Homo sapiens: one gene and its partners. The protein of the gene in region 3 purifies or fractionates together with the protein of the main gene of each other region. This does not show direct contact. Each region holds a gene or a part of one and is shown on either strand. Other genes may lie near its edges.

What was found.
Region 1: the proteins of NLRP1 (region 3) and SMC2 fractionate together in Homo sapiens (co-fractionation; one large-scale study listed by BioGRID). This does not show direct contact.
Region 2: the proteins of NLRP1 (region 3) and IFT81 purify together in Homo sapiens (affinity purification with mass spectrometry, with the first as the bait; one study listed by BioGRID). This does not show direct contact.

The regions. Positions count from the first base shown.
Region 1 is NC_000009.12:104,128,809-104,132,308, reverse strand, and holds part of SMC2 (structural maintenance of chromosomes protein 2), read right to left. Parts: intron 2,665-3,500; coding exon 2,464-2,664; intron 301-2,463; coding exon 184-300; intron 1-183. UniProt on the Homo sapiens protein: Central component of the condensin complex, a complex required for conversion of interphase chromatin into mitotic-like condense chromosomes.
Region 2 is NC_000012.12:110,130,857-110,134,356, reverse strand, and holds part of IFT81 (intraflagellar transport protein 81 homolog), read right to left. Parts: intron 1,811-3,500; coding exon 1,721-1,810; intron 1-1,720. UniProt on the Homo sapiens protein: Component of the intraflagellar transport (IFT) complex B: together with IFT74, forms a tubulin-binding module that specifically mediates transport of tubulin within the cilium. Binds tubulin via its CH (calponin-homology)-like region.
Region 3 is NC_000017.11:5,557,010-5,560,509, forward strand, and holds part of NLRP1 (NACHT, LRR and PYD domains-containing protein 1), read right to left. Parts: intron 3,035-3,500; coding exon 1,330-3,034; intron 1-1,329.

The sequences.
Region 1 (3,500 bases), on a different chromosome or scaffold from region 3:
ATCTGGTAGTAGTCAAGTTCAAAAAGAAAAAAATGCATTTAAAAGTCAGAGGTTTTAATTAAGGTGTGAATATGTGCCTCATTCAAACATAGATCAGCTATTTCAAATTTCTTATAGAGTATAACTCCACTGATGATATTTTTTCATCCTTGCAACCTCATATAAAACAAACATAAAAAGTACCTTTTGCCATGCAATATTTAGGGCTTGGTTTTTCTTCTGGTCAAGGTCTTCTATAGTTGTAAGAATTTTGGATTTGTCATTTTCTACAATTCTCTTCTTCTTCATCAAGTCATTGTACTATGAGATAAAAAACATGGTTAACTGGGAAAATATAAAATCTCTTCTATATTCTGGAATTTGGTCAGAAATAAACAGTTTTCATTATTTTTATATACAATACATACATTGCTATTTACCAAAAAGATATAATGCACTAAGAATTATATATACTCATATACTATACATATACTGTATGATGTGTGTGTATATACACACTCATATACACACTCTTAACAAAATTAGGAATAAAATCATCCATATGTATATAACTAAATTACTAGAACTAAGAATTTATAAGACAAAGTCCTTAAAATATTTTGACTCCACTAATATTCCCTTATCTCCTTAGCAGCCAAGGCAAAAAAAAAAAAAAAAAGTGTTACATATAAACTTAAGTAAAAGGAGCCCTGAAAGCTCTCCTCTTAAGGTCAGCCTTAGCAGTGACATGAACAAAATTTTGATCCTTCACCATGATATATAGGAACCACATAAATTGGACCTTACTTTTTTTTAATTTTAAGTTTTGGGATACATGTGCAGAATGTGCAGGTTTGTTACATAGGTATACATGTGCCATGATGGCTTGCTGCACCAATCAACCAGGTTTTAAGCCCTGTATGCATCAGGATAAAGGGAATTGGACCTTATTTATCCCTTGACTTTATGGCATTAAACTCCTCCCCAGGTTCTGGCCATATGGTCTTTTACAGCTCCTTTGAACATAATAAACTCACTATTGTCTTATGGCCCCTGCACTATTCTCCCTTCCTGGAATGCTCTTTCTCTGACATAACGGTTGCCTGAAATTTCAGCTCAAATATCACCACTTTAGAGTAGTCTTCCTTCAAGCAAGGCTGTAGAGGGATAATCATACCATGAACAGCAATGGGACTTCCTAAAACTCTTCCTAATTCATTTCTCCTCAAAGCCCTACATTTCAAGGAGGCTTCACATTCACCTTTAACAATTCTAGTCAGTCCTGCTGTTTTCCTTGCTGTCCCTCTTCTTTACAGCCACGCTCCCCTAACCTTCTCTCTACATTTTTATCTTATTTTTTCATGAAAATCCATGTAATTGCTTATGTAGATAGATACAAAACACAAGAAAAAAAAAGGCCATCTGCTGATCAACAATATAGGCTTCTCCTCTGGTAAAGAGATGGGAGTTGATAAATTCTTTTGAAAAAAATATTAGACTCAGGTCTCATCTAATAGAAGTAAACGAGTAAAAGTGAACAAGTTTCATGTTATGCAGATCAAATTCAGACCAAAGTTTTCCTTCTACAAATATATCACATATTGCAAAGCTTTAATGTAGAAATGAAAACCAGCAGGAGCATTTTCTAGAGAGATCACAATACCTGCATGATTCATCTGTTTGGTATCTAATATAATATAGACTCTTTGTGCATATTCATGCCAAAAACAGTTAAAAAAAATTATGGTAAAATTTCTTCAAAGTAACTGTGCTATTATCAGTGTCGCAGATTTCTCATGAATTTTACTCTGATTTGCAAATTCAAACAGAATTTTCCAGCATTCAGGAAGGTATGGGGCATTAATAGGGGCATTAATATAAAATTACTAAGATAGCCATTTCTTATGGCTATCTTAAGAGTAGGGAATGCTTCCCCCACTGGGTTTTTCTAGTGATAGGTCCTCCCAAGTTCATCACTAGATGACAGTAAACTCCCTTCCCAGACTCAAAGTTTTGTCAGGTTAGGGAAGAATAACATTATTGAGTAATTGAGAGCATTAAAACTGAGAAGAGGCTGCAGAATTTACAGATCAGTGAAACAGTATTTATGTGTATAATGGCTTTAGTCATTACTTATATAGTTTCAGTATACAGTAGAGTCAAGAGGATGACAGAAGTATATCCTATTCAAGGCTTTTCAATGCAAGTGAAAGAAATGAAATGATAGAAATGTGAGGAATTATGTTTGACAAAGAACAAAAGCCAGTGAAAAAGTCATTCCAGGTGTAATAGAATGTAAAAACAACTAATGATGCATAAGAGTAATAAGAAAAAAATGACGAAAAGAGAAAAAGGAAAGCAGAAAGAAAAGTATCAAGGACATCTGCAAAAGGTTAACTCTAATAATTGCATCAGAGGTCATACAGAGCTGTCAATGCTAGTCATGTTCTAATGCGGCCAGATATTCATAAGAAATTGACTTACTCGCTCTTCAGCTTCTGTCAATACATTCATAGCTCTCATATTGACATTTCTTCCTAGTTTCTCCTTCATTTCTTGCAACTTCTGAAGTCTCTGACCAGCTTCTTTAGGGTTGTTAGTTTTGAAATCATAGGCACTATTGGGTTGGCCAAAGAGGTGTCTCTCTGCATTAATCCAGTCATAATCTTTCAACATTTTGGATACCTAGCCACATATAAAAATAGATGGGAGATCTATGAATGTTTACAAACCAATATGTATAAGCCAGTTTCTTAACTATTTAATACTTTTGAATCAAATACTGAAGAGGAAAAAACCTTCAATGACTAATTTTTTTTTTTTTTTTGAGATGGAGTTTCACTCTTGTTGCCCAAGCTGGAGTGCAATGGCGCGATCTTGGCTGACCGCAACTTACACCTCCCAGGTTCAAGTGATTCTGCTGCCTCAGCCTCCTGAGTAACTGGGATCACAGGTATGTACCACCACGCCCAGCTAATTTTGTATTTTTAGTAGAGACGGGGTTTCTCCATGTTGGTCAGGCTGATCTGGAACTCCCGACCTCAGGTGATCTGCCAACCTCGGCCTCCCAAAGTGCTGGGATTACAGGCGTGAGCCACCGTGCCTAGGCGACTCATTTTTAAAAATGAGTTTCATTACTGACAAGAATAAAGATGAATATTTTTACCTGGAACACAGACTACAGAAACAAGACACTGTATAGCAAAAGATCTTCCTATTACTTTGGCATTAGAAGAGCCAACTCACAGAGAAATTTTTACGAAGTATACGCAAAGCACCTCCATTAGAATGAAATGTAAGTCAGGTAGAACTCCTTCAGAATTTACCAAATTCAATCTATTGCTTCAAAACACAACTTATGAGAAGCTAAAACTCTTTTAATACTTAAGTCATAGATTTGGTAAAAATCATGGAAGCCTAATGCTGACTGAGACCTAATAATTTTTCTCTCAGAAATATATTCTAAGAAACTGCCCTAAACATTGACTCTATCCTGCTCCCCACCTTTTGAAAAAGGCACA
Region 2 (3,500 bases), on a different chromosome or scaffold from region 3:
AAAACTAATAGCTTAAATATCGCAGTAATAGTAAAGGTAAAATATACACGGTAGTCAGTATTGACAGAATTTGGAAAAATGGGCACTCTTACTCATTACCGATAGCACTGTACTGAAGAACAATATCAAAAGTCTTAAAATATAGCCTGGCCAACATGTTGAAATTTTGTCTCTACTAAAAATACAAAACTAGCCAGGCGTGGTGGCAAGTGCCTGTAATCCCAGCTACTTGGGAGGCTGAGGCAGGAGAATCGCTTGAACCCAGGAGGTGGAGGTTGCAGTGAGCCAAGATTGCGCCATTGCACTCCACCCTGGGTGACAGAGTGAGACTCCGTCTCAAAAAAAAAAATCTTAAAATAAATGTTCATCCCTTCTAGCCCAGTAATTTTATATCTGATGATTTGTCCGAATAAAACATTCATGAAAAGACATCCTCTGTAAAGATTCTCATTAATGCAAGTTACATCTACAATTTGGAAATGACCAAAATGTATGAGGATTGTTAAATAAATCACCACATAATACAATGAAAGTCATTAAAAATCATGCAGAAGAATGTTTAATGACATGAGAAAAAGTCATGAAATGACATTAATTGAAAGAGGCGGATTACAACATTTATCTACAGAATACCAAGAAAAAGATTTAAATATATTTATCAAAATGTCAACCATAGTTGTCTCTGGAGAACGAGATTATGAGTGAATTATTTTTTCTTTTCTTTTTTTTTGAGACAAGTTCTCACTCTGTCACCCAGCTAGAGTGCAGTGGTATGATCATAGCTCACTGCAGCCTTGAACTCCCAGGCTCAAGTGATCCTCCTGCCTCAGCTTCCTGAGTAGCTGGGACTACAGGCGTGCACCACCATGCCTGGCTAATTTGTTTTTTTTTTTTTTTCTGGAGACAGAATCTTGCCATCATGCCCAGGCTGGTCTCAAACTCTTGGGCTCAAATGATCCTCCAGCCTCGGCCACCCAAAGTGTTTGGATTACAGGCATGAGCTACCATGCCTGGCCTACTAAAGTATTCTTGAACATATGCTTTGTAGAAAATTTAGAAAATATGATTAAACAAGAAATAAAGGCTAGGTGCAGCAGTGGCTCATGCCTATAATCCCAGTACTTTGAGAGGCCAAGGTGGGAGGATAGCTTGAGCCCAGGAGGTCAAGACCAACCCGGGCAACATGGCAAAATCCCGTCTCTACAAAAAAATACAAAAATTAGCTGGGCATGGTGGCGCATGCCTGTAGTCCCAGCTACTCAGGAGGCTCAGGCATGTGGATCATTTGAACCTGGGATGTCGAGACTGTAGTGAGCTGTGATCACACCACTGTACTCCAGTCTGAATGACAGAGTGAGACCCTGTCTCAAAAAAAAAAAAAAAAAAGAGAGAGAAAGCTTTAGTAATAATGAATAAATTAAAATATAGACTCTAGGTTCTTGTCATTATTCTGGTTTACTTACAGGACATAATGGAGGAATAGTAGATGGACATATATCACTCTTCTTCCGTACTGTAAGTAACTACTCATCGTGAATTTACCCCAGTCTCATCAATTTCATCAGTAAGGAACTACCAAAGGTCCCCCCACAAAGTAAAATGTGCCATTTGCTATCACTAGTCTCCATATAGTCTTAAGACTCATACTGAATTAATAAAATGCTAAATCCAATATTATTCAAATCCCAAAAAAATTGTTACTATGTTTTCTTTCCTTTACCTTTCTTATTTCTGCTGTAGAAAATCCAGATATCTTGAGCTGCTCATATTCTTTATGCAAAGTTTTAAAGGCTTCCATTAACTCTTCATACTAGAAGAATAAGTTAAGAAATTATAAACTAATAACTAGATCCAGTAGAGTTTTCTTTCTTTCTTTCTTTCTTTTTTTTTTTTTTTTGAGACAGACTCTTGCTCTGTCGCCCAGCCTGGAGTGCAGTGGCACGATCTCGGCTCACTACAACTTCCGCCTCCCAGATTCAAGCGATTCTCCTGCGTCAGCCTCCTGAGTACCTGGGATTACATGCGCGCGCCACCACGCCCGGCTAATTTTTGTATTTTTAGTAGAGACGGGGTTTCACCATGTTCAGGCTGGTCTCGAACTCCTGACCTCATGATCCATCCGCTTTGGCCTCCCAAAGTGCTGGGATTACAGGCGTGAGCCACCGCGCCTAGCCATAGAGTTTTCTTAATCAGGTTATCTATTAACTTACAGCGATTACTTAAGTCATTGTAAGAACAGCATTAAAAACACAAAAACACATCCTTATACATTTATATAGGGTACAAAAAAGTACATCTCTACCATCTTAACACTAAATACTTCTCTATCTTCATTTCTGGTTACTTTCCTGCTTCACACTCTACACTAGCTATGTTGATGTCTGAGTTCCTGAACATTCCATGCTCTCACGTCCAGCTTATACATCTATGACTCCCTCACCCATAACTTAAGCAACTCCTTTTCATCCTTCAAGTCTTCACATAGATTCTACTATTCTCAGAGAAGCCTTCTCTGGCCCTTTATCTATCCTATCAGAGTAGATATCATGTACAATTATAACTGACTATTATAATTTTCTGTCTGTCTCCCTCCATCATATAGTGAGAGCCAAGAGGAAAAGAATCATATTCATTGTGTACACCCTTGTATCCCTAGGGCCTAGCACAGTGCATAACCCATGGAGGTGTTTAATATAAAGTAGTTGAATGGGCCAGGTGAGGTGGCTCACACCTGTAATCCTAGCACTTTGGGATGCTGAGGCAGATGGATCACTTGAGGTCAGGAGTTCGAGACCAGCCTGGCCAACATGGTGAAACCCTGTCTCTACTAAAAATACAAAAAATTAGCTGGGCACAGTGGCGCACACCTATAATCCCAGCTACTCAGGAGCTTGAGGCAGGAGAATTGCTTGAACCTGGGAAGTGGAGGTTGCAGTGAGCCGAGATCACACCACTGCACTCCAGCCTGGGTGACAAAGCGAGACTCTGTCTCAAACAAAAAAAAAGTAATTGAATGAATGAAAAAAATCCTGTTACCTAAAAATTTTTTAAAATAGTTTTTTTTTGTTGTTTTTGAGACAGGGTTTCACTCTGTCACCCTGGCTGGAGTGCAGTGGTGCGATCACAGCTCATTGCAGCCTCGACCTCCCTGGGCTTAGGTGATCCTCCCACCTCAGCTTCCCAAGTAATTGGGACTACAAGCTTACGTCACCATGCTGGGCTAATTTTTTTATCTTTTGTAGAGATGGGTTTCACCATGTTGCCCAGGCTGGTCTCGAACTCCTGAGCTCAAGCAATCTGCCCACCTTGGCCTCCCAAAGTGCTAGGATTAAAGGCATGAGACACTGTGCCTGGCCAAAAAGTTATTTTGATGGGGAATGACAGAATAATATTTTTCTTGATTGATCATATCTTAAATCTACAAATTATTAATTATAAGACCCTTCATTCCAAAAGATAATATGTATTTTTATTAGGATTCCTGAAATGACTGGCTAAAT
Region 3 (3,500 bases):
TGTTTGTTTTTTGAGACGGAGTCTGGCTCTGTTGCCCAGGTTGGAGTTCAGTATCACGATCTCAGCTCATTGCAAACTCCGTCTCCCAGATTCAAGTGATTCTCATGCCTCAGTCTCCCTAATAGCTGGGATTACAGGCGTGTGCCACCATGCCCAGATAATTTTTGTATTTTTTGGTAGAGATGGGGTTTTGCCATGTTGGCCAGGCTGGTCTCGAACTCCTGGCCTCAAGTGATCCTCCTGCTTCAGCCTCCCAAAGTACTGGAATTACAGGTGTGAGCTACTTCACCCAGCCTACATATCTTTTTTTTTTTCCTATAATGAACATGAATTTTATTGTGAGAAAAAGTTTTAAAAATATAAATATGAAGGCCCACATCAAACATTTCTTCCTCTGAGAATCTTTATTACCCACTCGTGTGATCACTCCCTTCCTTGGGCCACCACAGTACCTTGTCCATACCTCTACTGTTGTAGACATCACACTCTGTTGTCATTAAATGAATGTTTGTCTTCTCCCCTATTTTTTGAGCTCCTTAAGGCACGTATTGTGCTTTTTAATCTGTGATCTGTAGGGCCTGGCATAGAATCAGTGCTTAATAAATACTTATGGAATGAATCATCTAAAGCAGGACATAGACACATACCAATAGCATGTGATCGATACCACGACAGAGGTCGGGGAACCGGGATGGGGAAGTTCTCAGTACTGCCGGGCTGGAGAATGGTTGGAGGAAGCTATTCTTGCACAGCCAGAGAGTGGGTTTCAGGTTGAGTGCGTGGGGCAATGGTGGCACCACGGTCACAAATAATTATGAAGTCAGTTTTGCAGGGAAAAATAGGAAACTCTTTTTGAGAGCTGATGGGGAAGATCTCAGGGCCAATGTCGTTGTCATGGAAAGGGTTCCTGAAGCAGCTGGAGGAGCAATTTCTCCGAGAGAATGAATGCCCAGAGAGAGGAGCAGGGGTAGGGGGGCTGCCTGATCCTTGGGGAGTGTGGGGGTAGCTAAGGTCAGCAGGAAGGTGGGAGCACGTCCAGGAGAGAAGATGGACGGTCATTCTAAGGGTAGGAGGAGAGGTGGCAGACACGGCAGGGCCCAGTGGCCTCTCCAGAAGCAAGCAGGGCCTGCCCCACAGCCGGGCACTGCAGAGGAGCTTAGGTAGACAGAGCATGGTGGTCAGATTGGGCAGTTAGAAGTCACTGGAGACCCTGATCCTTTAGCCACCCCCACCCCCGGCCAGGCTCAGTGAGCATGCCTCTGGTGCTCAGGTCACTCGGGCTTATGGACTGACAGAGGAGCTGCAGACATGGGTGGTTTGGGTACTCACAGGACTACCATGGTGGGGCTCCATGTTGATCTGTGCTGCCTGCCCTCAATCAGCTGAAGCTTCTTCACGTGGCGGCTGAATTTAATGCAGAAAGTGCACACTAAGAGCTCCATGTCTGTTTCTACACACATGCCCATTTCTTCGAAATGGGCCATCACTTGTGTCAGGAACGTTTTGTTCCGAGTCTCGTACAAGCAGTGGAGGGACTCCAGAGAGTGTGGCTGCAGCAGCAGCTGCAGGGACGGGACCCACTGCATCAGGTTCCTCCCCTGAGACAGCCGGCAGTGAAAGATGTTCTCCATCTCTCTCTCCCCCTCATCACTTAACAGGCCCAATAGGAAACGTGTGGTTGATGCCCCAAACAGGCCATGTATTCCATATGCTTCTAGCGTCTTTTCCAAATCTATGATGCAATTAGAATGTTTACCTCTCCCCTTCTCATCCTCCAAGACATAGGACATTGCTGCAAAGAACTCTTGGAAACAGAGGTGAATGAAGCTGTAGCTCAGAGGGATGGGGTGCTCTTGAAGAATACCCATCTTCAAGAAGGTGGAGATGATGGCCCCATCTAACCCATGCTTCCTGAGGTCATCTGGACTGAAAAGGGTCTTTTTTTGCCAGATGCCCTCAGCAGCCAGAGAGCAGAGGTCTCTGAGCTGGGGTCCCAATGGCTGAGCTTGGAGAGCCTGGGCAAGGTAATGTAGACAGAGGGTTGTGGTGGTCTTGGAAGTCAGTGTGAGTTTTTCCTTCCGCTTCATCTGCTGCATCAGGCAAGTGCAGGCCAGCCAGGACACCCAGGGCACAAGACACAGGGCCCAGAGCTCTTTGTTTGATTTGACCAACCTAAAGGCTCTAATTGCTTGCCTTTCATCTGTGAAATATCTGTAGAAATATTCCTTCCTGCTGGACTCAGAGAACCCCAGGACCTCTACCCAACGTGCCTGCTCCAAAGAAGGAATGAGGTTCTGCAGAGCTGTGGTCCGAGCCGTGATCAGGAAGGATGCCTCGGGAAGTATAGTTTTCCCCAGCAAACTGCCCAGCAGTGCATCCGCCGGCTGTGGCTGGCTCCAGTGCAGACAGAGCTCAGAACTCGGCTCCTGCAAGACCCATCCTGGCTCATCTACACCATCGAGGATGAAGAGCAGCCGCTCTGGCCTAGACAGGATCTGTCTAATGGGAGCCGGAGTGGCTGTCCCATCTTTTCCGATGAGCTCAGCGAGACTCACCACCTTGGACTGGGCCAGCTCTCTGCAGCTGAAGTAGAAGACATGCTGGAAGCGGTCCCCATACAGCTGGCCTCTCCCCCAGGCTTCCTTCACCTGCCTGGCCAGTGTTGACTTCCCAATTCCAGCAGCCCCCTGCAGTATGACTATGCGAGGTTCTTGGGTATCCAGGCCTGGGCCAAATAAGTCTCTGATCTCAATTAAATGTCCTCGATTCTCCTCCACATAATCAGGCCAGCTTCTCTTGACCAGGGGATCTTGGCTTCTGGGGTGAGGTCTTTGTAGAAGTAGCAGCTGTGTGAATTTTTGGTTAAAATCCTCATTTTTCCAGGGCCATGTGGAACAGAGGCTCTCTCTCACAGAAGGCTCCCATGGGTGGTGGTGGGGCTGTAGGCTGGTGTGCGCCTGTGGGGGCGTTCCTACCACCGCTGCCCATGGGGGCCTGCCTTTCTCTGATTTCTCTCTCTCTCTTTCTCTGATTTCTAAGTAAGGGAGGGAAAGAAGGAACATAAAGGTAGAGAATAGAAGAATTAATTAATTAATTAAACAACTGTTTTAGGCACCTACTCCAAGCCACACACTGCGCTGTCTGCAGACACTGGTATGTTCTTGCCATGCGGCGGAAGGACATGTGCTTTGGGGTAGAATATCCCAGTTCAAGTCTTGACTCAACTAAGTCACACTCCCTGAATGACTTTCCTTCACTGAATATTTATCAAGGGCTTACTCTGTGCCAGGTGCTGCTATAGGGGTTGGGGATAAAGAGTGAACAAAACAGACACAACTCTCAGTCCTCACTAAGCTTATGATGCTGGCCATTAGCCCCTATGAGCCTCAGTTTTCTCATCTGTAAGCTGGGGGTTGTAGGTCATGGAGGACTGGAGGAGACACTGGAGTGTGTAGCAGATGCTGACAGCATCCCAAGCACCTGCTATTGCAGTACCTGCC